Linked DNA regions of Homo sapiens: region 2 is linked to region 1. Evidence: fine-mapped expression QTL. A gene starts in region 1. The other region holds a variant in brackets. All regions are shown on one strand. Distances are from middle to middle.

What was found.
Region 2: its variant is fine-mapped to the expression of EGFR-AS1 in sun-exposed skin (GTEx, PIP 0.95).

The regions. Positions count from the first base shown.
Region 1 is chr7:55,185,241-55,193,240 of GRCh38, reverse strand. EGFR-AS1 (EGFR antisense RNA 1) reads left to right here and starts at 4,292. Exons shown (of 2, transcript NR_047551.1): 1 at 4,292-4,384. It overlaps EGFR (epidermal growth factor receptor), which reads right to left. Exons shown (of 28, transcript NM_005228.5): 21 at 1,367-1,522; 22 at 400-475. RefSeq lists enhancers at 272-1,157, 6,867-7,640.
Region 2 is chr7:55,117,216-55,133,806 of GRCh38, reverse strand. All of the region lies in intron 1 of EGFR (epidermal growth factor receptor), which reads right to left. Among named protein-coding and RNA genes, the nearest start is that of EGFR-AS1, 63 kb to the left of the region's middle. RefSeq lists enhancers at 28-1,027, 1-1,167, 1,681-2,588, 2,894-3,053, 3,064-3,143. The variant G/A (reference allele first, on the strand shown) is at 8,883.

The sequences.
Region 1 (8,000 bases):
TTAAGCCTCATTTCTCTACCGGAACTATTCCCCATTAAGCTTCTTCTGCCACCTCCCTCTGGTTCACTTCAAATTCATGGCAACATTAATGGTTTGGTTAACGTTAAAGTTTGGTTGGACTTTGCAGGGAGAGCCGTTTCCTAAGCTCTTTCCCTCCCATACCCCCCACCCTGCCAGACGAGCTCATTGCAATCTCCAGTGACTTTTGGACGGCAGCTGGACTCGATTTCCTCTGCCGTGTTTTCTCAGTACAATAGATAGACAGCAATGATTACATTATCATTAGTCATTATCTCGAAAGAAAATACTTGCATGTCAGAGGATATAATGTAAATTAACTAACAATAAAAGCCAGCTTGGCCTCAGTACAAACTCATTAGCATCAGGATTATGACTCACCGTAGCTCCAGACATCACTCTGGTGGGTATAGATTCTGTGTAAAATTGATTCCAATGCCATCCACTTGATAGGCACCTTGGGATGGTGAGAGATGAGGCAGTGAGACAACTATTAGTTTCCCTCTGTTGGAAAAAGTTAACTCACTCTGGACCTAATTACGAGTGACACACACAGACGAGCCAGATCACCCCAGGACCCGTCCCCCAGGCCCGGCGCCTCCTCCCGGCAACAGGGGATTTCAGTCTGACGGAGTTCAGGGCTGCTCTGGTAGGTTTCTGAGCACCCTCTGTGTCCCAGGCTGCTCTGGTGAGCTGGGAGCCCTGGTTGTGCCCAGTGGCCTCACTCATCCAGGTCTGCGTGTGTTTTCAGGGCCCAGCATCATGGGTTGGTGGCTGCTAGGAGCCAAGCAGGCCAGAGTGAAACCTCAGAGGGGCCTGGCTGTGGGAGGGCATTCGAGGGCCTGACAGGGGACGCGCACCCCTTAGTGCTGTGAGGGTCCCTAAGAGAAACCGAGCCAGTGAAGGGAGAGAAGGACTCCATTGCTGCCTGTCCCAGCCACGAGCCACAGACAGCCCTGGGAGCTCGGGTCCGCATGGGGCCTTTCCTGTTCCTTAGGTGTCCTTGACAGCAGTGGACCACCAAGGCAGCTGTGACCTTTCCCAATTGCGCTATTGAAGGGGACTTATATATCCTGCAGGGAGAGACTGAAACCTAACATTTGCTAATGATCACCTGGGGATAACATCCTCATTCACTGTCCCAGCAAGTACTGTTCCCAAAGCAGCTCTGGCTCACACTACCAGGAGACCCTGGCTGGACCCAGCTGCCAGCAGCAGCTGCTGCGAGCTCACCCAGAATGTCTGGAGAGCATCCTCCCCTGCATGTGTTAAACAATACAGCTAGTGGGAAGGCAGCCTGGTCCCTGGTGTCAGGAAAATGCTGGCTGACCTAAAGCCACCTCCTTACTTTGCCTCCTTCTGCATGGTATTCTTTCTCTTCCGCACCCAGCAGTTTGGCCAGCCCAAAATCTGTGATCTTGACATGCTGCGGTGTTTTCACCAGTACGTTCCTGGCTGCCAGGTCGCGGTGCACCAAGCGACGGTCCTCCAAGTAGTTCATGCCCTGAAACAGAGAAGACCCTGCTGTGAGGGACAGATCATCATGGGAAGAAGCTCTGCATCCGAATTCAGGGTCATGTTCATGCCAGGCTCTGAGCCTCTCCACGTCGAGGACTTATGGCTGGCGAACGTTAGTGACTACTGATCCAAAGAATGGAAAGGCGCATGAAAGAAGATGTAACCCGCTGCTGACCATTAACTTTTCTCCATCCAGTTCCTCAAGTTTTAAGTCCAGAGGTGCTCGTATATGAGGACAAAGAAGAGCAGGAGCTCTGCTGCCCAGTTGAGACCTGGGCTTGAACTTACTGGACTTGCCAGGCTGACCTTCCTGCATGTGGTTTATCTGCAAAGTGGGGGTGGGGGGTGGCGGGGACCATGCCCTCCTCACCAAGCTGGTGCAAAGGAATGTCGTTCAGGGTTTTTAAGCCACACTCTCATTGTGCTTTCTTGGACTCTCTGATATGGTTCACTGCCTATGAAGATTTTTGTCCTGTTTTACTTTTCACTGGTTTATTATTATTATTATTACTGAAACCACATGGATACTGAAAATGCTTTTAGAAGACACCACCCTCCCCACCTCCCTGGCTGCCTCCACAATCTCGCTGCAATTGAAATCTCTGCTCTGAGAGTAAGAAAGGAATAATATGTGAGAAGCAGCCAGCACAGCGCCCAACAGAGTGAATTCCTAGAAATGCTACCCTGACCCTGGCTGATCCTGACCCACGGCCTCTGGTGTCCTTGTCACATGCACCTTTCTCCCTGCTGGCTGCTGGGGTCACTGCTGACCCCTGCTCCTCCTTGCTTGACGGATGCCTACCTTGCTGAGCCCAACTGTCCCAGGCTTTGGCCTAAGAATGGCAGCCTGCATCTCTCTGCAAGGGCCAGGCTGGCAGGTGGGAGAGGCTGGGAGGGGTCAAGTTCTGCAGACTTCTTATTATTGTTTCTACCACACTCTCTTCTCTCTCCACCAAGAGGGTGGGCCACCTTTCTAGTTCCCTTTATGGCTGATGTTCATGTACTTTCTAGTACAGAGTGGGCACGACAGAAATGCTTGCTGCGGTGCAGCAAACAGAAACAAACAGGCATCTCTAGCCTGCTCCACTCTGCCGCTCCTGTATGGAGGGATCCCACTGTAGTGTGACTGCAGGGAAAAGCTGTAGATGTGGATGGATTCCCAAGTTTTCTGGCAAATTGTTTTTTTTTTGCATGAATATTATGTGAAAATGATTTGTTGAATTGGCATGTCAGAGCAAAATTAAAATTTTTTCTTTCTCAGGCAAAACCAGTCATCATAAGAACCTAGGGTCTCGCAAAGATGCTATGCAGAATTAGTCTTTGGGCGCCGTTTGTGAGGCCTTTAATGTTTTTCTCTTTTGGAAAAGAGACGCTTGCCTGACACCCACGTCTCATGACTACATGGACTGTCCCCTCACCCTGCACTGCCGAGAGCGCTCCTACGGGTTTCCGATGCTGCTGGACGTTAGTGCTTCCCTGCCTACTTAAGAGGAAATGAGCAGGTTCTTCTCTGGACAACACTTCCAGATTAGGAAGTATTATGTCAGGATGGTGGGTGGAAAGGGAGAGGAGAGGGGGGGCAGAAGCCGAGGAAGCGCTTCCCAAAAGAGGACTGGCCCAGACTCCCTGCTACTCTGGCAGCCTGGGTCTCCTTCAGAGGCAAGCTCCCTGCCCCCGCTGTCTGCCTCGTTTGACTCCTGCGATGCTGACTTGCTCTCTGCCTGGTACCCTGTCTCTTACAGAGCAAGGCCTCTGTTTATTAAATATCATGAACTCCTGCCCATTCGAAAGGGAGAGTTAGGCTCAGCCTCTTGCTGGTTCAACTGAGTGTCTACCTTCTTGGCTGTGTGAACTCCCAGGCTATCTCCTCTTCTCTCTTCTCTGTCCCTTGATTTCTCACCCTCACCCTTGCTTTCTCCTTTCTTTCTACCCTGTTCGTTCTTCACATTTGTACCTTTTGTTCGTTCTTCACATTTGTTGAAGGCGTCCTCTGTGGTAGCTGTTGAGCAGGAGTGGCACAGGCCTACAGTAAAGAGCCACACACAAGTCCCCATGCAGAGGACCAGGAACCTCTCCCTTTCTCCCTCTCTATTTAAAATGCGTGGTTTCTACATATTCATTAAGCCCACAAGGAGGCCCTCAGAGCACATTCCCAGCTTCGTTTCACCACCACTGCTAACTTTCATTCTGCCTCTTTAAATGCTTAGCGGAGATTTTGGTATACTGGGCACATTTTTAAAACGGCCTGTTGAAGAATGAACAACTGAATGAATGAATGATTGAATGACTGGTGATAGCAGCTGACAGTGCTGAGCACTGGCGATGTGCCAGCCCTTTCACACACGTCCGTGCAGACACCTTTTCTATCCCAGTCCCCACACGACCACCTCGTTAGATGACCTGGGGTCCAGAGACTGAAGCATGTGGCTGCACAGACCAAATACCCTGAGACCCCAAGACCACTACTGGGACCATGGCTTTAATTGCCCTGCTGGGAAATGCACCTGCTAAGCCAGAGGCTGCTTGGGGTTTTATATATATGCATATGTGTGTATATATATATATGTATATGTGTATATATATATACACACACACACACACACACATTATGTGTGAGAGCATGAGACAGCGTGAGCATGCACCTTGGTCCCGTGCCTCTGGGGAAGTCCGCGTCACTCTGTCAATCTAACAAATCCAGCTGACCTCTGGCCCAGCCCTTCCCCACTCCTCACACCAGGGCTTTAAAGGACCTGAGCCATTTCTACACAGTGTCTGTTTCCTCAGAACACCGGTCTTCACCAAAGGCGTGGGAAAGGGCAGAGAGCACAGGACATATTCTGGAATTCAGGTAATCAGTTGGAGGGTTTTAAGTCAGAGACAGCTTTGGGACAAGGAGAGAATCCCATGTGAACTTAGAGGAGACTTGACGCATGGGTCTCCGTCCCACTGCCGGCACATTTGAAAGGACAACTCTGTGCCTGGCGCAGTTATGCTTTAACTGGTCCCCAAAGATAAGAGCTGCGATACGGCCTGTGAGCTCCCAGGGTCCGAGCAGAGGTCGCAGGAAGAAATATCAACAAAGCCTCAGCGGGGCCTCTCAGGAAACTCAGTTCCTGCTTCTTCTCCGAGACCCTCACTTTAATTGAAATTAAAATATTTATTTTTGTTAATTACTACAGGAAAACTGGAATGAATTTTGAAATACAGCACTGAGGTTAAAAGGGGATTTGAAAAGCCAGCCTGGAACTTCCACTTACAAAAAAGAAGGCTCTGCTCCACATGGCTGTCGGGGCTTATTCTGGCAGGGTACCCCAGAGTGAGGGGCGGGGGCTGTGTTTGACCTTGAAGGGCTGGGTGTTCCCAGGGGCTGCCGCACCCCACGAGTCTTGGGAGGAGTTCAGAGTGAGAGGCGGGAACTGGATTGTTTGTGTTCTATTTTGTAAATCTCCTGTGGAAGAGCTCATGGAGCAGTGACTTAGGAAGGAAGTGGAGGAGGGGAGGACGAGAAGGCCGCGTGGTTCTGGTGGAGTGGAGGGCTTTCCTATCAACACTATTCTGTTGTTGCTGTTGTTCAGAAGTATTTATTTAAAGCAAGATCAGAAAGAGGCTTAAGGTTCATCATCTTCAAAATAACCCACCTCTACCAGAACCATGCTGAGACCAAGACCACCATCACCCTTCCCCTGGGGGCTGGGGCTCACCTCTCACCTCCACTTTGGGCTGGTCCTGAGGCAGGCAAGGCCAGACACTCTTGGCCACAGCTAGGGAGAAGGTGAGGGGCCCCGCAGGGCTTTCTCAGGCCTCATCTTCCAGGATCCCCCTGTACAAATGATGGTGTTCTCCCCTCAACCTTTTAGCCCTTGGGGTGCTGGTGGGGAGGGCAGCCCCACCCCAGAGACCCACCTGCAACTGGTAGAGGTAAGGGATGGGGTTCAGGGGGGCTCTGAAACTACGGATCTGATGAAGTTTTTAAGCAGAGTGGTCACCAGGAGAAGCCTCCGCTCCTGTCTCTGGACTCCAGATCTCAGAGCATCTGTGGCCTTGAGCTCCCTAAAAAATGGAAGAGTCTGTTCCTCAGGCCAGCTTGCCACCTTCCCAGGCAGGCATAGAGTAAGTGCTAGACCTCGGAAGAGGCAGGAAAGTGTCAGAATGTCCTATTCCTAGACAGAAGTGGTGCAGCACGGGCACCCTGCTGCTCAGGGAGGGAGGGCTGCTGGGACCCCTGTCCTGAGAGTCATGCTCTGAGCTGGGGCATCCATGCAGGCTGAGAGGCTGCACCATGGAACCAGGCCACCTGGATCAAATCCTGAGATCTTGGCAAGTGACGTAAACACCGCATGCCTTTGTTTCCCCATATGTAGAATGGATTAATCAGAGGGTGGAATGAGTTTATGTAGAGATAGCACCCATGGAGAGTCCCGGGTAGGTGCTCATGATTGTCACCATTTCCTCCAAATGCCAAATCTATTCTCTCTTCTCCATTCCTTTTGCAGCGACCTTGAATTTGGCCACCATCTTGCCTTTGTGATGAGGCTCCATGTGCTTGGCCCTGAGGGGTCCACCCCTCCTCCCCAGTGTCCCTTATCTGGTGGTTTCCTCCCTGTCCTCAGCATCTCCCAGTCAGAGTCACTTCCCCACCCTCAAGTGCCTTCACGCCCTGTCCGCAGCCAACTCTCACCCACAGAGGCCTCCTGGACAGGGAAAGGACCTGTCACGCTGTTTGGTCTGCAGGACTCACGGCTCTGGAGGGTGAGGGGCCATCTGGCTTGTTCACTGCTATCTTCCCAGAGCCAGGGGGCTTGGCTGACAGACCCATTCCATTCAAACTTGGAGCTCACCCTCCCTGTGCCTTGCATGGTGGCCTCACTATAGCTGCGCCTCCTGCTCTGACCTGCTTCCCTTCCTGCTCTGTATTTGTTGGCAAACTTGGGGAGATAAGAAATTTTGTCTTACTTCTATATGTATTTCATGTGATGCTTAACACTAGCAGGTAAATGCTTAAGAAATAACTAGTCAAAATGTCTAAAGATGATGAATGTGCTTCAACAGCACTGTGAGCTTTGTCTTTTTAGTGATATACTAAAGTGATCATTAGGTTAAGTTTAGCTGCGACCCTTTGTGGAATACGCAAGAACAAATAAAAAAAATAACTCACATAACTGAAATCTCTGGTCCTTGGACCTAGGAATCCACAAAGCTGTGTGATGTGAACGTGCTGGGTAAGTCATCCTCTCTGGCCCAGTGCAGACGGGATCAGGAGGTGCAGGGCTGAGTCACCACCCTGGGGCCACAGTTAGTCAGCAGGGGTAGGCTCTGCCGAGTCCTCATCTGAGGATGGGAAAGCCATGAGGGGAGGGAGCAAACCTGGATGACGAAGGCCGGAGCCCTCTGGGACCTGCCTTGCAGTTGCATTGGAAGCAATGTAGAGCAAGCCAGGGTCTCTTCTCCATGACAGCCTATCTCCACCAACACACTGTGGCCCTTCCTCAGTGCTCCACCCAGTGTCACTTTCACTCTCTCACAGTCCTGCTTGTGTGCTATGACACGCACACAGCACGATCTGTCAGCGTGGTTTTCGTGACCTGGCACCTAGGAATAGGCCTGAGTGGCCTGGAATGTGCTGGCACCACCAGCTTGGAGTCTCCTTCCCTGTCTCCCGGTGTGGACGGGATAGCCCGGCCCACTCAGCTCATCTTCCTCTCCCTCCCATTAGCAGCTCACAGGCACTGGGGCTTCTTGTCAGTAGCAGAGCCGTGAAAGCACCTAGGGCTTTTTAAAATGGACTTGGACCAAATTAAGTAGCCCACGTACTTGTAAAAAGGAGCCTTTGACGTTTTCTTTGATGTTCATCTGCATTAAATTTTACCTCATAGATGGAACTAAGTGTAGTTTGGTGCTTATACAGTTGTGGTCAGAGAGTGCCATGTGTAAGCCAGTTTCATTCTGAGAACCCTGCCCCACCGCTACCGTGCGTTGTTCACCAGGCCTGGCCTCAGGACTGTAAACTGATATTGTTTGCTGTACTACAGAACCACATCAGTGTCTGCCTGAACACTCAATTCTGTGAGACTGTAATCTGCATTAGGTGATGAGAAAGCTCTGTTGTCCAAATAGTTTGGAAGAATGTGAGATGAGTTGCAGTCTGAATGGCAGGACTCTGCAGTCCTGGGCATGGGAGGCTCCACGGGGAGAGGGTGGCACAGGAGCAGGGCTTTCCAAACGGCACGGATGACGGGATCTTTGGATGACTGTGCCGTGTGATTTATTCTGGGATTTACTAGCTGGCTTGTAAATCCCAGGAAGAGTAGACAGGCTTTCTTAAGTCTAACTTAATCCCAGTGCATGAAAGCCACTGTGAGCTCCTGTGTGGGGAATTTAGGAGGCACCTGCTCTTTCTGGCTAGTAAGCAAGTGGTGTCTCCGCAAGCTCCTGAGATGGTTTTGCATATGGAGAACAAAATCCAT
Region 2 (16,591 bases), 64 kb after region 1:
CTGCTTCAGGGCCGTGTGGCTCCTCCAGTGGCGCCTCAGACCTGCCAGAGAAGGGCAGTGCAGAGCCAGGGCGGCAGGAGCCCCAGCAGAGCTGGCCTCTCCCTTCCTGGCTCGCTGGGGAGCCGACAGCACCACAGAACCCGGGGTGGGACAGAATGGGGCAGTGTGGACGTGGGGATGACGGAGATTGCATGATTATCACCAAAGGTGAGCTCAGAGACATCTGGTAGAAGGTAGGGGGAGATACAGAATTCCTAAATGGGGTTGGCATCAAAGATCACTGCTGGAAAATCGGCTTCAAAACCCGGCCAGCTGACTTCAGGAAGCCAGCTCTTTGTTCAAAGTCAAGACTGCCCTGTGCTACCTCCCTTCCCCTCTGACTTCACGTCCCTCTTTGTTACTGGAGAGCTGGTGAGCACCAGGCAGTAGAAAGGTGCCAAGGGCTGCTGGGGGCTGCAGACTGCACAGCCCAGCCCAGCCTCCACCACCCCAGCAGGCTCACTGGGCAGCTCACTCTTTCTTCCTCAGCTTTGCATGAGACAGCTCAGTGCTGCCTGCCAGGGTGCAACTCTTCTCTTCCTAGACAGGCCCTCACAACCGAAGGCACCCTAGCAAGGTGATGTGCAGGTAAAGACAGGCAGGGCTGCCGGGAGTTCACCTCGCTGGGCGCTGTCTCACCCAGTCCACACACCTTTTCTCCTCTATCTTCTATTCAGTTCAGGCCCGTGACTCACTCCTTGATGACAAAGGCTGAGTAATATTTCCCATATGAAGCTGTTTATTTGCTGGTTGAGCTGTCGCCCTAGAAGTCATGTGAATACCAAGCATGGCTGAGAAGCTCCGTGGCCAGATGGAGTCAGCCACAGAGGTTGCATGATGACCCTTTGGCCAGGCTCACTCCACCCTGCTCTGAGATGCACACCAGGCACCAAAGTTGCTTGTTCTTTTGTTCATTAATTCAACTACAACATATCTAGTAAAGTAGCGCGAAGGTAGCTGCTAAGGATGAATCAGAAGTACTCACTGCCCTGAAGGAATATGTGAGTCCTTTGGGGAGGCAACTTTACACATGAAACAGTCACAGGACATCTCAGAGCCATGCAGTGTAGAGGTGTGCTAAAGGAACACACGTCAGAAAGAGAAGTCAGTCAGCTCGAGAACTGGGACGAAAGCACCAATATTCCTCATTACCAAGCAAATGAAAACATAATACTTCACATTCAGATTAGAAGACTACCTTGCCTACAAGTGCCAAGTGTTGGGCTTGGTGACTTCACCATACGTAAAATACATAGTCCCACCATTTACCACTAAAAATAAAGTTTCTTCCATTTCTTTTTTTTATGCCTTCCCATCCTCTGGATTCGAATTGGGGGATACAAGTTATTATCCTTCCTGGTTTGTTCATAGTTATCTGTAAGAAACACATCTTCATTCATTCTTCTTATAGTCAAAAATCCTGAAACAGATATGTAATTTGCAAGGAAATAAAAGATCTCTGACTCAAAAATTGGGATTGGAAATTCTTTTTGCAAATGTTTATCTGCAGAGAGATTTTGTTTGGCTTCCGTGGGGTGGTGCATATCCACCCCTAGCCCAAGATGGTTTAAATGTTCTTTTAAAATTTTTCTTCAATTTTTACCCATGTTTTTTAAAAAATCAATCTCTACTGCAGAATTGCGATTTAAAGCCATCTCTATAAACATACACACATTTACATTGGTTTACCCATGAACATTAGGAAAAAAGCATAAAAGCCCCTCTTTCAAAAAAAAAAAGACAACCAAAAATCGAAAGAAAAGAGCAATCACAAAGACACCAGGAGCAGGTCAGTGCACCAGTGTGCTTCTTTTTTTTTTTTTTTTTTCTGAAAGCAAAGATGCTCCCTGCGCTTGTCCCTTTGACCTCTGCAGCACTGGGCCACAGAATGGCCACGTCTAGCTGCTCCACTGTTCCATGACAGCTGTTAGCCTGGGAGGCTGTGCTGTGTGAATGTCTCTGAATGCTGACAGCGCAAGGGGTCAGCAGCAGGGACCTCAGAGCATGCTGGACACCCCAGGGCCTCTGGACTTTTCCCCCGAGGGTCAAACATGCAACTCTCAGTACTGACAGGAGCAGGACAGCCAGTGAATTGAATTGCTGGGGGGCAGAGGGCGCTCAGTGCCTTTGGGGTAGCTTGGGGAGAAGCAGCTTCGAGAGGGAGTGTCCGAGGGGCCCAAGCCGCCCCGCCTGTGGTTTCTAAGCCGACCCTAAGGTCTAAGCTCGCATGGTGCTGCTTCAGGCTGGAGGTGTTCCCTGAGTCGTCGTCATCTTGTCCTCTTTACTGCGGGGAACAGATGAGAAGCAGTAAAAGGAAGAAAAATAACCTTCCTAAAAGATTACTGACTCAATTTTACCAATGAGCAGTCCACTGCTTGCTTTTTTCAAGTTATAGAAACATGTCATGTTGTCAGCAGAACGATGCAGCCAGTAGTTTATGTTCATGTCATAAAGTGTTTGAAGAGTGAAAAAAAAAAAAAGAAGGTGGAAAGCCAGCCTCTGCCGGCAGTTTAGTCGACAGAACCACAGGCAGCTGCACTGTTACTGGCACATGTCAGTGGGCACTGGGCTCAGTGGAGTCCATGGTTTGGAATCCTGGTGCCACCCCTATGAAGGCAACATCTTAATCATGTTGGGTCTGTTTTCTTCATTTGTAAAACAAGGACTCATGTACCTGTGACTCCTGGGAGGGAAGTGAGAGGGGAGAGTCCCTGGTCAAAGCACCTGGCCCCTTAGTCAGACTTGAGTCTGAGTGAGACTAGAGGGGTTGCACAGGAGGAATCCCGTCCCTTTCTCTAAGCACTCAGAGGTTGCCGGCCTGCCCTCCTGCTCACATGTTGTGATGACCTCACCATGGAGCGGGGAAGCTGGTGCTGACCGCAGCTGACCAGCCCGCCTGGACACAGGGATGCGTCTGCGGCTTGAAAGGAAGGCAGCTGGCCTTGTGTCTAGCAGGGATCCTGTGCGGGGCACATACAGCTGAGAATTCCCTTCAGGGAACCCAGCATGCTCTCAGAACAGTCTCCACCCCTGTTCTTTTTCATTTAGAAAAGGGCCTCGCCTGACCCTCTGTGATGGTTTTGTAAGCGTGGTTGGATTTGTGTGCTCTGAGTGTGTGTGGGTTTTCATTTAACGCTTGTTTTAAAATGAGCCCTCTTCTCACTTCCTACTCAACTGAAATCCTCCTTTTAAGTTTCATTTTAAAGTGGGTGAAGGGATGTAGCAGTGTGAAGACAGACCTTGTCCCGGGGGCGGGCGTGAAGCTTTCCCTTTCCCTGGCTACCCTGTAATCCCAAACTCATTCCTGGGGTCGTTGACAAGGAAAAACTGACTCAAAAATCACTAACAACTACCAAGTTAACTCAGGAGAAGCCCCAGCCAAGTTTCTGCCATAGAAGAATCTTAATTTTGGCTCAGGACATTCTTGCAATAGGGCCGCACTCCTGTTTCTAGAATATATTATCCCTTCCATGAGGAGAGCTGCTAATTAACAGACCAGTTCCTGCACGTAGGCACTTGACATTAGATGGCTCCCCTGCCTGAAAAAATGAGTGAGTCGGGAGTGCTATCCTGAGCTGGCTCTTTACTGCCCCAGGCCTGAATCTAGTGAAGCATGAGCCTGAAGCAGCGCTTGCCATGTCTCAGAGAAGGGCTCAGTAAACCTCCTCTGAATACAGCCAGAGAGTAAATGTTTTCAGCTTCACCCATCATATGGTCCCTGTCCCAATTATTCAACTCTGCTGGGATAGTGTGAACGCAGCCACAGACTGTAAGCAAATACATATAGTCATGCTCCAATAAAACTTTATTTGCAAAAACAGGTGGCAGGCTAGGCGTGACCCACAGGTTGTGCTTTGCCAGCCCCTGTTTTAGGGAAAGGCCTAGCAGGAGGTCAGGAAGTATGTGATGAGGAGCCCTTTCATCCTATACTTTCTAGAAGACAGACCTGGTTGGAGTGATTCATTTTCCCCCAAGGCCAAACTCCAAAAGGATTTTCTTAGTGCTAAGCTCTTCCTATTTCATCATCAGCTAAATAAAGGAATTGAAGTAAGATACAAGGTCCTGAAACCGGAGAGGGAAATGCAGGGGCTGGGGATTGTTATTTGTGTGTGTTTGTGTGCAGGGCAGTGTTGCAGCTCCGTGCTGGGCACAATTTACTTCTAGATTGGGATACTCACTCCCTACCCTCACCACTCCCACCCAGGGCCCCTGCCTTCCCATACTCTACCAAATGGTTGTCCACTCCTCCTGGACCATTCTGAGTGACTAGGAGTGTGTGAAGAAGCAGTCTACTCTTGTTATTGACAACCCTATCACATAATTGTTCCTTATGTTAAGCTGAAACCAGTCCCTTGATAATTTTGTTTGACTTAACACAGATGCAACGTATTGCTTCTCTACCTTACAGCCCTGCAGATATTTTAAGACAATAATTGTTTCTCATCACGTTTCTCACCCCAGTGCTTTCCTGCAGATTCCCCGCCTCCACAGCCCTCCTGGGAATTCCACGTGTGTGGCCTCTCCACACAACTACATCCTCTGCAAAGGCCTCCCCAGCTAGATCTGCTTCTTGGCTTCTGTAGTCCCCACGGCTTTCTCTCATGTATGAGCACTCACTCACACTTGAGTGCTGAAAGCATTCTATTATTTCACAGCACATTTTGTCCTTTAAAGAGATAACATGTCATCTGAGAACAGCACAAACATTTTGTTTTCTTTAGCTTATTATTTTGAAAAATTAGCAAGCAATAAAAAGATAAATAAAAATTGTTGAATTACTGGAATGCATGCATGAACATCATATATAAGTTTTCAACAGATGTGATTCCCTTTTCTGTACAGTGTAATAATGAATATGGCAGTTGAGTAATGAAAATGGAATCTGTATTCCATCTATTAATAGTAGGCCTGACGGTAAATTGCTCTCAAGTTTGGATGAGGAAGTATTTTTCCTTGCTTTGGTCTCCCCTAGGTTTTAGTTTCCTATCACATCCTACTAGCTTAATAGAATTATATTTGCTATTGACTACAGATATAGAATCTTGTAGAAAACCCATTTTCTGATTGAATATATTTGAGATCTAACTAGAGTGATATTTTCCAAAAACATGGAGTCTTCTAGAATACTAGACAAGAAAAGATATCATTGCCATGCTTTGCTTCATTATTAATTACTATGCAAGGGAATACACACAAATAACTTGCAGGGGTGAGTCACAGAACACACGTCGTATATTCTTTAAAAAATTCCTACTTTCAACTTTTCTCTTAGGTTTTCTTTTGCTTTTTGAAAATGTTTTGTGATTCTCTTCTTTCATTAAACTTTTTAAAATAGCTTTCATATTTAAGGGCAAACTTTCTTAAATAGCTTTCATATTTAAGGGCAATGACTAAGGTGAAGCTGCTCCGCCATGACAGTAATTTTAGACCAAAGAATATTTCAGTGGATTTCTTTAACTCTCAGTAATAAACTATTTGAATTTCTCCTCCTTGGGGACAATTAGAAATGAACCGCAAAGGGACACATCAGCTGCTTTGATCAGCAGAAGTGTCTTTCAAATGCAGGCATCGTTCGGTGGTCTAGGAGACTCGTGGTAATGAAGCAAGAAGAGGAGTGGAGCAGCAGGGCTGGGGCCAAGTCCCTGGGTCTAGAAAGCCACTATGAATGAACGCTGCTTGCACCCATTATAGGTCTAAGCACCAATCCAGGCTCAACCGCTCACTCCAGGAGGATGGGAAGCCTTTGTTTTGGTTCCTGTGCCAACTCTGGCTTCTCTGGCTGCCCCATTCAATCTGACAGAACATGTTGACGGAGATAAGGTTATTACTGGCTCCCGCAAGGCCCTACCATGTGAGGTGGTTTCCAGTGGCCTTTCCCGGGGCTGAGAGCGGGGCCTGGTGAAATGGACATATTATAAGAAGTCTGCAATCTGTAATCTGAAGCAAGCTTTTGTTTTTCTTTTTAAGTTGACTGCCTGGTTATTGAGGCCAGTAACCAGAGAAGGGAAAAACTGGAAGTGTGTACTTTGTGTCTCAACTGAATTCATCCTGAAGTTGTTTATTCTGGCCCACTGTCAAGTCTTTATAAGGGGGGTGTTGGCGGCAGAAAGGATTGGTCCTAATGGCTATATGAGTGCCTTCTACTCAGCTAATTTCTATGCTGTTGAACAGCCATTCAAAGCGTATTATTTTTCCTTGAAGCCGAGAAAGTTTCTATACAAGCATTCCTTTGAAAGTGCAATTAACTTTTGTAACAATTTGTGCTTTAGTTTAAGAATTGCAGATGTTGTGTGGGTGGTGGGGGGTGAGGGGGTGGGAAGGAGAGGATGAAGGAGTAAGGATATAGATGCCTCCCACTTGGAAAATGTGGTAACACTTCCTTTCGTGGAAAAAGCGCATCAATTTTTAGAATTACTAAAACATTTAGATGGTTGGTGAAACAACTGAGAAGGCCGTGATGTTTGGTTTGGGGGAGGTTGGACTGGATCATCTCCCAGCTTCCTCTCCTTCCTAATGAGACCCAGATCTTTGTGACAGAATTATCTGGAATTGTGATTTTATGCTTGGAAACTGTCCAAAGGTTGGGTAGCAGAGCCCTGCCACTCATCAAAAATGCTAGCTCAATTTGCAAAAGAAATACAAAACCCAAAATGTCACATCACCATTGGGATGTAAGTATTGATGTGCGTGGGTCAGAGGAGCTCTTATTAACTAGATGGTACATTAGTTTTCACTGGGGAATGGTTTTCACCATTAGAAATACACTTGCACTGCCCCCAAGTCTATTCCTTATTATTTAGTGTTAGTTTGAGGTTAAGCGGGGGTGTTTGGTTTCACTGAATGTTTGTGGCTATTTCATACTACGGTATGATCCTTAGTAAACCTTCTACCTCAAAATCCACACTACTTTTTGTATAATGAATATCTCACTCATCCCCTGACAAACAAGATAACATTTATAAAATACTTTATAGTTTGCATTTGCTAATAATCTAGATTTTCTAATTCATGTATATCCAGTACTTAAACTATTAACAGAAATCAACCTAATAAGGAAACTATTGAGATTCAATCCCACTAGAATTAAATCCCTTTTATATGTGTGACTTCTAGGAAAGCAGTTAATCAGAGGCAGTGCAGGAGCATTTCTCTCCCCCTCACTGGTATGTGGGGATGAGGTGTGCAGTGGGGGCACCTGGCATGGTCTTTGAATGCATGGGTCCTGGCTTCACAAGCCTGCGTTTGCACCCAGCTCTGCCAACAGTAGTGGGGTCCCCTTGGGCAAATGACTTCTCTTTACTAGCTTCACTGTCCTTGTCTGTTAAGTGGGAGTAGAAGAATGCCTCCCTCGTGGATTGTTGCAAGGATTAAATTGTTAATATTTGCACAACACCCAGAAGAGCATCTAGGTCATGTAAGTGGTTGCTGTTGTCATCGTCCTTTTAGGATTAGTATGTGCAAAAACGAACAGTCCTGGGACATAGCATTGACTGGAACCAATGCTGTTCCTGCCCTCAGGAAGCTTACCATCCAGTGGGGAGACAGACATTCACTGAATCATCACAACATCACAACTGTGATTATGCCATGGGGATGATCTAAGAGTGCAGAAACCTGACCTGGTCTGAGAGGTTCTGGAGGGGTTCCTTCAGGAAGCAGTTCAGCTGGGCTTCTAAGGACAAGCGGGGCCCCGCCACATGTGGGGAAGAGTTGGGGGCAGGGGACCTTCCTGGCAGGGCAGGAGGAGAGGGACTGTGAAAGGCTGCCTGGCTGAACAGAGCCTAGCAGAGATGAAGCTGAGAGTGTGAGGGGAAGTGGGATGGAGAGGTTCCTGCTGCAAGGCTTGTAAGGACTTTAGATTTCATTTGAAAGGCACTGAGAAGCCACTGACAGATTCAAATGAAGAGGAACATGTGCAGATGTGTGTTTTTAAGAATGCCTCTGCTTTTTGGAGGGGGTCCTAGATGGCATCTGGAAGTGGGCGTGTCTGTGACAGCACAGTGCAAGGGGCCCTGTAGCGCACAGGTGCTCTGGACTTCGCCTGGGTCAATGCCTCATCCTGGCTGTGACGCTGCAAGACGTCTCCGTGGGGAAAGCTGGTACGCTGGATTTATCCGCATCATTTCTTACAGCTAGTATGTGTGAATCTACAATTTTCTCAAAACAGACAGTTTAATTACATAACTTCTTGAGATGTACAAGCTGTAGGGCAGAGCCCTTGCAAAGAAATATCATCCCTAGGTATGTGTTTGCTTTATGGGAGGAGCTGGCACCCCAAAGCTGGAGCACCCAGTGCTGTTGGAAATGAGCCTGGCTTCTGGCAGTGCCCTGGTGACAGGTGACTCTTCTTCTCTAACTGAGATAAATGGAGTTAGCCATAATAGCTTGTAACTTTCAAATACTATGATTTTTTCTTATAATTTTTTAAAGCATGTGGTTTCAATGTTGCATACTCAACTTATGACTAATAATTAGTTTTCTCAATCCCATGTTGCACATTTTAGTATTAAATAATCTCCTTCTCCCAACTTGAAACACAAACACAAAAACAGATCTTACTGCCATGTGGAGAAGGGCCCATTAGGCCTCCAGGGAGTGTGGAGAAACCCCTAGGAGGCGACAGCAGAGCCTGGAGTCCCACCACTGAGAGTGTCATCTGCAGCACAGCAGCGGGGACATCCCCAGGAGCCTGCTGGAAATGCAGCCCGAGGGCATCCCAGATTTGCTGAATCAACATCTGCACTTTATTAAGGTTCCCAGGTGACGCTCATGTATGCTGAACTTTGCAAAACAGTGCACCAGGGAGATGGCAGGGTGAAGGGGCACAATGGACACCCCGACAG[G/A]GGTTAAAGAGGGTGAATCGACAAACTTGGGGATGGCTTAGCTACAGAAAGATAGAAGAGAGTGGCATCAAGTAGCTGTTGACATCTCCAGGTCAGAATCGGGAATGTTCGAGTGAGTATGGTAGTAGGAGCACTGGAGGCTCAGGTTTATAGACTGTGAATTTGGTGTGGAGCAAGGCATGTGGGGCAGCCAGCCTGAGATAGTGTCTGGTCTTTCAGCTAGGGCTGTAGAGGAAATCAGGGCACCCAATGGATGATCAGAAGGGAACGGATCCTGACTGTTGTCATCTTGGCTGGAATCAGCCAGTTGAATTGCCCCCGAGGGATCCATCCTTTGGATCAGTTATGCCCCATCTAAACTTGCAGATGATGATAATGCAGATTTCATGAAAATCCTAAGATCCACAACTCTTAGCATAAAGCCCTCTATAGTTTTTCAACCATAAGTTGCAATCAAAGAATATCATACACAGCACCATGATTTTAGAGCTTAAATTTGTAATTTTGAAAATCTGAAAATTTAAGAACTGAGTTAAGCAAGTCTCCAAGCCTTGGCCCAGGCTTATTCATTTTTTATTTTGAATAATTTAGTCAATTTTATGGCCAAAATACCTCTCCAAAAACCTGGTAGAAATTTGAAATATACTCATATCAATAAAACATGTTGGAACAAAGGTTTTAGATTTGATTGAAGTAGTATGGAATGTCATAGGGACATTTTCTGACAATAGCACTGGGAAACATATCAAGTCTGAACATTTTAAAACCATGACTGATAGGGAGAAAAGTTTTTCCTATAATTTAAGCTATAGCTTTCTTGTTAATTTCCCTATTTCTTTATGCACTTTCTCTAACTAGACTCTAGAACTACACGCATACATTAATACACACACATACACCAAGCACACATGTACATTCACACTTTTATGTGCATACACACATACTTGCAAACAGATGCATAAAACACACATACATGTACACAATACATGCCCACACACGTATACACACTTACTTGCACACACATGCACACACACACACATCCATTTACACACGTGCATGCATGCACATACGGGCACATTCACATGCACACACACACAGAGATTTAATTCTAGTTTGAGTTAAGAAAAACCTGCTGCTCTAGTCTTTTATTACTCTCCCCTCCTGCTTGATTCCTCTAGGTTTCTTCTCTTCTAGGCTTTCCCCCTCATAAACTGCCACTGGGATTTGAATTGACATTCATATCCATGAGATATTGTAGCTCTAGACCTCCTCTTGCAAAGCCTCATGCAATAAGGCATATGATAAATGTGAGATGGAGACCCTCAAGCTGCTGCCAGCAATTGCTTATGTGCACCAGTAGACTCTGAAGATATTTCACAAGGAGGTACACTTAGCTATGAAGAAATGCATTTCCTACAGATGCTACACCAAAAAGGAAGACCAGAAAGGAGAAAAATATATCCTTTCTGGGATATATAATCTGAAAGAGATATGCAGTATTTTTAGTTAAGTTTTCTTTATATTTGTTTGTAAAAGGAATGATATATCAATTACTCTAAGCAAATAAAATTTGCAAATTAATTTCTTAATTGATTGCACAGATATTTGTTTCAAAGAATGACTCTTTAATCACCTGGCTTTGACCGCAATATCACCACAATACCTTGAGTTAATCTGAAACGTACTATGTTGTACCAGGAAAGGTCTGTAATCACATATCACATTTTCTTCCCCCAGACGTGATATTTAATACACAACCTGATAAAATAAAGGTAATTAGGTAGATGATTTTCAATATCTTCTATAGCAAGCCTGTAGACAAAAAAAGAATTCCTGACCTAGTCTTGTTGATTTTTTCTTACTACAAACTAGCCTGGTCATCCTTCTAAAATATCCCACCATGTGAATTATTTTGATGAGATCTTTGCATTGAAGGTTGCACTGTGCTAGTGTGAACCATTAATTAATCAATTCATCAATTAATCAGCTATATACTGAATACAAGACACTGCACGCTGGCCCCAGCACTGAGGGAACTCAGTTGAATGGCAGAAAAGCAAGTCAGCCACTACCCCACATTGTGACAGATGCTGTTGTGGCAATACTCATGAGACATGCTGGAAAAGAAGTTGAGGCAGCTGCTGATTTTCAGCTAAGAGAGGATGAGGGACACCTCATCAGACTGAACAACTAAGGAAAGTGTCCCAGAGGATCTGATGCTTGAGCTGTCCTGTGATGGATGGCTTGGAGGTAGGCAGAGGAGAAAAGGGGAGAAAGGGCAAAGGGAACAGAGAGTGAGAAGGCACAGAGAGGGGAGGCAGCAGGAGGAGTCAGCACATCTGTGAGAGAGTGAAGATCCCATGCAGGTTGGAACGGCTGCTGCCAAAAGTGAGCGGAGCTCAGAAGGGCAGAAATGCGCAGCCATGGCTGCCTCTTGAGGGCGAGGGTAGGAGGCTGTGCATTTCTTCAGCAGCACACAGCGTGGCTGTGCGGTTCCCCCCACTGCCACCAGCAGCCCATTGAGGACACATGCTGCACTGGCCCAGGCATGGACTTTGCAGGTTGGGCAGTAAGAGGGGAGTGAGGGAACACTAACGATGTGAGGCTGTGTCATGCAGACTGGACAAAAAGAGGGAGTGAGACCAGATGGGAGCTGCCAGGTGAAAAATCACGTTACCAAAGGCCAAGGTCGACGGAGGACTAGAGTGCTCCATGAGCAAGGCTGAGAGTGCTGGGAAGACAGCAGGCCAGAGAGAAATGTGGCCCGAAGACTGGAGAGGTAGAGCCTTCCCAGTTATGGTGGGGTCACAGAGGCTCCTAGAGAGCAGATCTCTTCAGTGAATTGACTTGTTGCACAAAGATTATCTAAATAAATTGTTATCATTTCCTTCCAGAAGTGGGCTCAGGTCTCCCCTCCAAGTCTTTTTGGATAGTGAAGAATCAGTAAAGAGCCCCTAATGCGGATTAAAGAGAGATGCCCAGATCCACTGGACTGAACTGGGCAGCAGGGAACTGCCTTTGAAGAACAGGCCCCACATGGGACAGCTTCATTCCCAGTCAAGGTCACTGTCGCACAGAGGCCATATATATTTGTTAAATGACTGAATTACTTATGGTACAAACTTGACTGCATCACTTAAATGCTTTTCGATTCTAGTAAGAGGAAGTTCTTCTAATATTAACTTCGATTTAGTGGAAGTTACCCAAGAAAGCTCAGTAATCCAAAATAGAAGACAAAGTCACCATTATGTGATAGAGTGTTGTATGTCTAGGGGTCTGTTTTTTATGGTAATTCTCTGAACCAGGAGTTCCAATGGAGAGAACAAAACTATAGTGGTGGTGGCTGGGCAGAAGGCTGACAGGGAGACAGAGCAGAAGACAGCACAGTCACGCTGCTGGCTACTAGGACAAATGACAGCTCTCGAAGGGCAGTACCTCACATTCCTCTCATCACAGAAAATGAGAAGGTGTGTAGGACATTCTTCTAATGGCTGAGCTGTTACCTAAGAAGGGTAACACACAATGCCACTGAAACGCCATATGATATCTGCCAGAGGCACGGGGCTCCCATTGACTCCTCCTCTGTTGAAATGGATTCTGAAAGAGCAGCAGCAATGAGAGAAGAGAGCCGCCTTTTCCTGGGAATGTCTGCCAAAAAATGTTTACCTTCTCTTCCATATCAGAGTTTTATCCCTCAATCTATGTATGGTTGTAAGCAGCTAAGCATTCAGAAGTTTGGATTGTATGGGCTTTCTGAAGAGGACAGTGTGAGGAGCTCTTGTTTTCATGCTAAATTGGAGACTTCATCCCTGCACAGTATGACACACTTCCCTGTGTTGTAAGACTTGGATTTAGTTCATGGAATCTTCCAGGCTTTCAAAACAGATGACCTCTCACTAGAAGATCCACTTATCTCTTTCCCCTTGGCCCTGTAAACCAGCCCAGCAAAGTCCCAACTTGCAACAAACAGGCAATTCACTCTACCGGAAAACAGTTATCTAATCTCTCAAAAATGACACCTGGCCAGTTTCTAACCGTAATGCCTTTGGACTCATTTCCATCAAATGTCTTCCTATAAGCAATGTTAACAATGTCTTTATAACTGTAGGTGCTGTAACCAGTGGAGAATACAATTAAAAATAGGAATATGCAGCCCGATGAATGCCCTCCACTCCAAACCAGTGTTATGAGATGTGTCAACAACGTTCCCAGGAGAGCTAATCTGTTCACCATTCAGCAAGTGCTCACTGAGCCCCGGATGTGTGCCAGGCCCTGTGTGTGCTGTGGAGATACCAACAGTCTCCGCCCGGATGGAGCTGACAGTCTAGGAAGGGGGATAGATGTTAAATACTCTGGTGAATATTTCTCCCACCACCACCCATTGGCTGATTTAAAAGGAAAATGGGGGATGCTTTGCAGATGGTTCATTTCCATGTAAACGTCCTTGTGGTTGTAATACATTGCTTTCTCTACTAACAAGAGTTAACTTTCAAATGAAAAAATGGAGTGATTATTTGTCAAACCAAAGTGCTTTCTTCATTATTAATAAAGTTGCTCAACATCCCTTTAGTAAGTGAAGTTATTCACACAGGGTACCAGGAAGTGGAGATAGTCACATATTAGCCCTCTTGGGCCCTCCACGTGTAGGCAGATGAACAGGAACCACGAGGGTGGGTGGCGTCCCCCAACACTGGAGAGCAGGCTGTGTAGAGTGCTCTTGGTCATCCTGTCTGCAGTCCTCCTGCCAGGGAGGGCAGCACCTGATCACAGAGAGACACAGCGATGCAACAGAAACACTGAAAAAGAGTAGCTTGTCCTGGCCCACGTCAGCGGCCTCGGGTCCATCCAGGTTTGCAAAAAACAGGAAGGTTTTCACTTGTATCTGGCTACCCAGTCAGCATACTGGCCTCAGCACTATTTGTATGTCAGGAACTCATGAGACCAGTACTTCTCAAACTCTCATGGACATAGGAGTTACCCAGGACTTTGCAAAAATGCAGATTCTGAGATTTTGGAGGACCTGGCCAACTGCATCTCTAACACACTCCAGGGATGGTTGTGCCCATGGCCCTGGGGAGGTGAAACAGATTTGGGGCAGTGGTCACCTGCTGCAACAGAATGTGTCCTCCAATAGAAGGACCTTTCAAGACACTGATAAGGATGGGTCAAGAGGAGAGGTGAACCAGGGCAGGGTGGGTTCACGCAGCCCAGGAAGACAAAAGCATAGGACCGTATTGTCAAATGCAGAGGGGCCAGGCCACGCCAGAGCGAGGGGAATCCCACAGATGTAGCTACAAAGGGATCCTTGGGATACCTTTTTTTGAACATTTCCTAGATCAGTTTCAGTAGAGTGGCTAAACAGAGATATTACATTCTGAACAAATTCAGGCTTTAAACAGGAGAAGATACACAGTGAGACTCTCTTCCCACAGCATTTGCTAGGGTAACACCAACTCCAATTATGCTGAAATTCTAGTTTCCAAATAGTTGATGGTTGTTGGGGATGTACAGCATCAGAGCCAACATTATCCCCTATATGTTTCTGGAACCACTCGGAAGATTGTGTTGGTTTCAGGCTCTATGTCATGGCTTATTGTCTTAAACCAGGAGAGTCTGACATCCAGTTCCAAGGCTGTAATCTCTCTCTGTTACACCTCATGGGAAAAGGGTTTGTAGGTCATGATAGACACTGTGTATGGAGAAATAGGTACTCAATTCATTAGGAGGGCACTCTCTCAAAAGGCCTGTAGTTATTGATCAAAAATTAATTTTATAGCTTTCACATTCTTCTCAGATCAGATGTATTAGAAAATTAAGGTCTTGATGATGCCTTCCTCTTCTTGCCAGGATAAATTGAATGGCACTTGAACTGTAAAATGAGCAGGGGAAAGAGCAGAGTTTTAGGCTTACTTGGTCCATTGTTCACTTCTATTCTTTTCTCCTTGACTTTGGAGGAAAGGTAGGATTTGTTAATAAAAATGTTTTTAAAATTTATTTTTAAAGTTAAACTAGCTTTCTAGTATGAGTTTTTTAAGTAAAATAACCAATTTTCCCACGAGTTTGCTACTGAGAAAACACTGAATGGGAAGATTTGGGGGAGCATTTCAGGCTGATGGGCTGACTTCTTATGTGTCACTTCACCCCTCCCTGTGCAGTCCTGGTTCCCGCCCGCCCTGGGACACTTCTCTGTGGATCTGTGAGATCACAGCTCCTTTGTCGGCCCCTGGAGCTGTCACCCATGGCTCTGAATGACTTAGTGACTTGTCATGTGCCAGTGGACATGACATTTCTGGAGGGCAGAAATGGTGTCTATCCAGCTAGCCACAGCCAGTGCCCAGTGGTGGCCTGACACATAGTGGACAGTTGACACGTGTTTGTTGAATGACTACCCCAAAGGTGGCAACCTTCCACACAGCCGGGGAGTGGGGGAGAAATGTGTTCAGAGGCTGGTCCACCTGCTTCTACCACTCTGGTCTTTGGGATGGTGCCTTCAGGTACCTACTGAGCCTATCTTACTCTAGTAATCTTTTAAAGTATTTGAGATTACCAGTGCTTCTCAAACTCCAATGGACATAGGAATTACCCAGGACTTTGCTAAAATGCAGATTCTGAGATTCTAGGAGGGCCTGACCATCTGCATCTCCAACATGCCTCAGGTGATGGTTGTGCCCGTGGTCCTGGAGAGGTGACATAGATTCAGAGCAGTGGTCACCTATTGCAACAGACTGTGTCCTCCAACAGGAGGTCCCCATTAATTTCAGAAGCACTGGCAAAATGCTCAAAAGGGTAATCTCCATCTAAGCATTTTATGAATAAAGGATTCATTAATGAAAAATTAACTTGTGCTGGGCACTTTAAAAACCACTAAAATGTCAAAGTGTAATTGTAACGCAATTCTAATTTATAGACACGCCGAGTCTGAGTGGTGTCAGGCCCTACTCTGGTCTGGATTCCCTTCCTTCTCCTTTTCTGGGGGCCCAGTTCTGCACAGGTGCATGTCTCAAACTAACTCCAGTCTTCCCAGCATCAGCACTGAAGTTCTAATTGCAAATTTTCAGTGTTTTGGCCTAGGAAATCTAGCCTTTTCAAACTTCTGAAGCCTCAAATATACACTTTACCAATGCTTTTCCGCAGCCCTGACTGTGTCATTCACCATGACTGCAGAATCACATACACATATGCAAACCCTCGGGAGACTTGGTCTTCCTTGCTCCTTCGTTGAGGGCACTCTGCACAGGGTCTATGGCGCAGAAGGGAATACCGCCTAGGACTTGATCGCAGCAGTATGCCCTGGTGGCTGCTTTGGGATTATTTTTTATAACAGAGATCTATTAAAGGGCCATGTTCCCTGGAGGAGTTCTCCCATCATTCCAGGTGGTTTCCTCCAGGGTTGCCCCAGCTCTGCTAGTATCAAATATCCTCCTAGGGCAGCAACCATGGCCAAGAGCCGTTCCTCTTTGACAAGCTGCCTCGTTTTCTGCAGCTTACCTATAACATGCTAATTGAATGTGGGAGTTACAGAGTGTGGGTCCCCCCCACCCCGGGAAATGCCCCTCCTTGTAGACTGCTATGTCTTTCATTGGGTACCATTATTTCTCATCTTTTCTTGCCTGCATTCAACAAACTTTTACCGATCTAAAAAGGTGGCAAGACAACTTTTACCCACATCTCTATTCCACTTTATAAACTATTTGAATAAAAAGATTAAA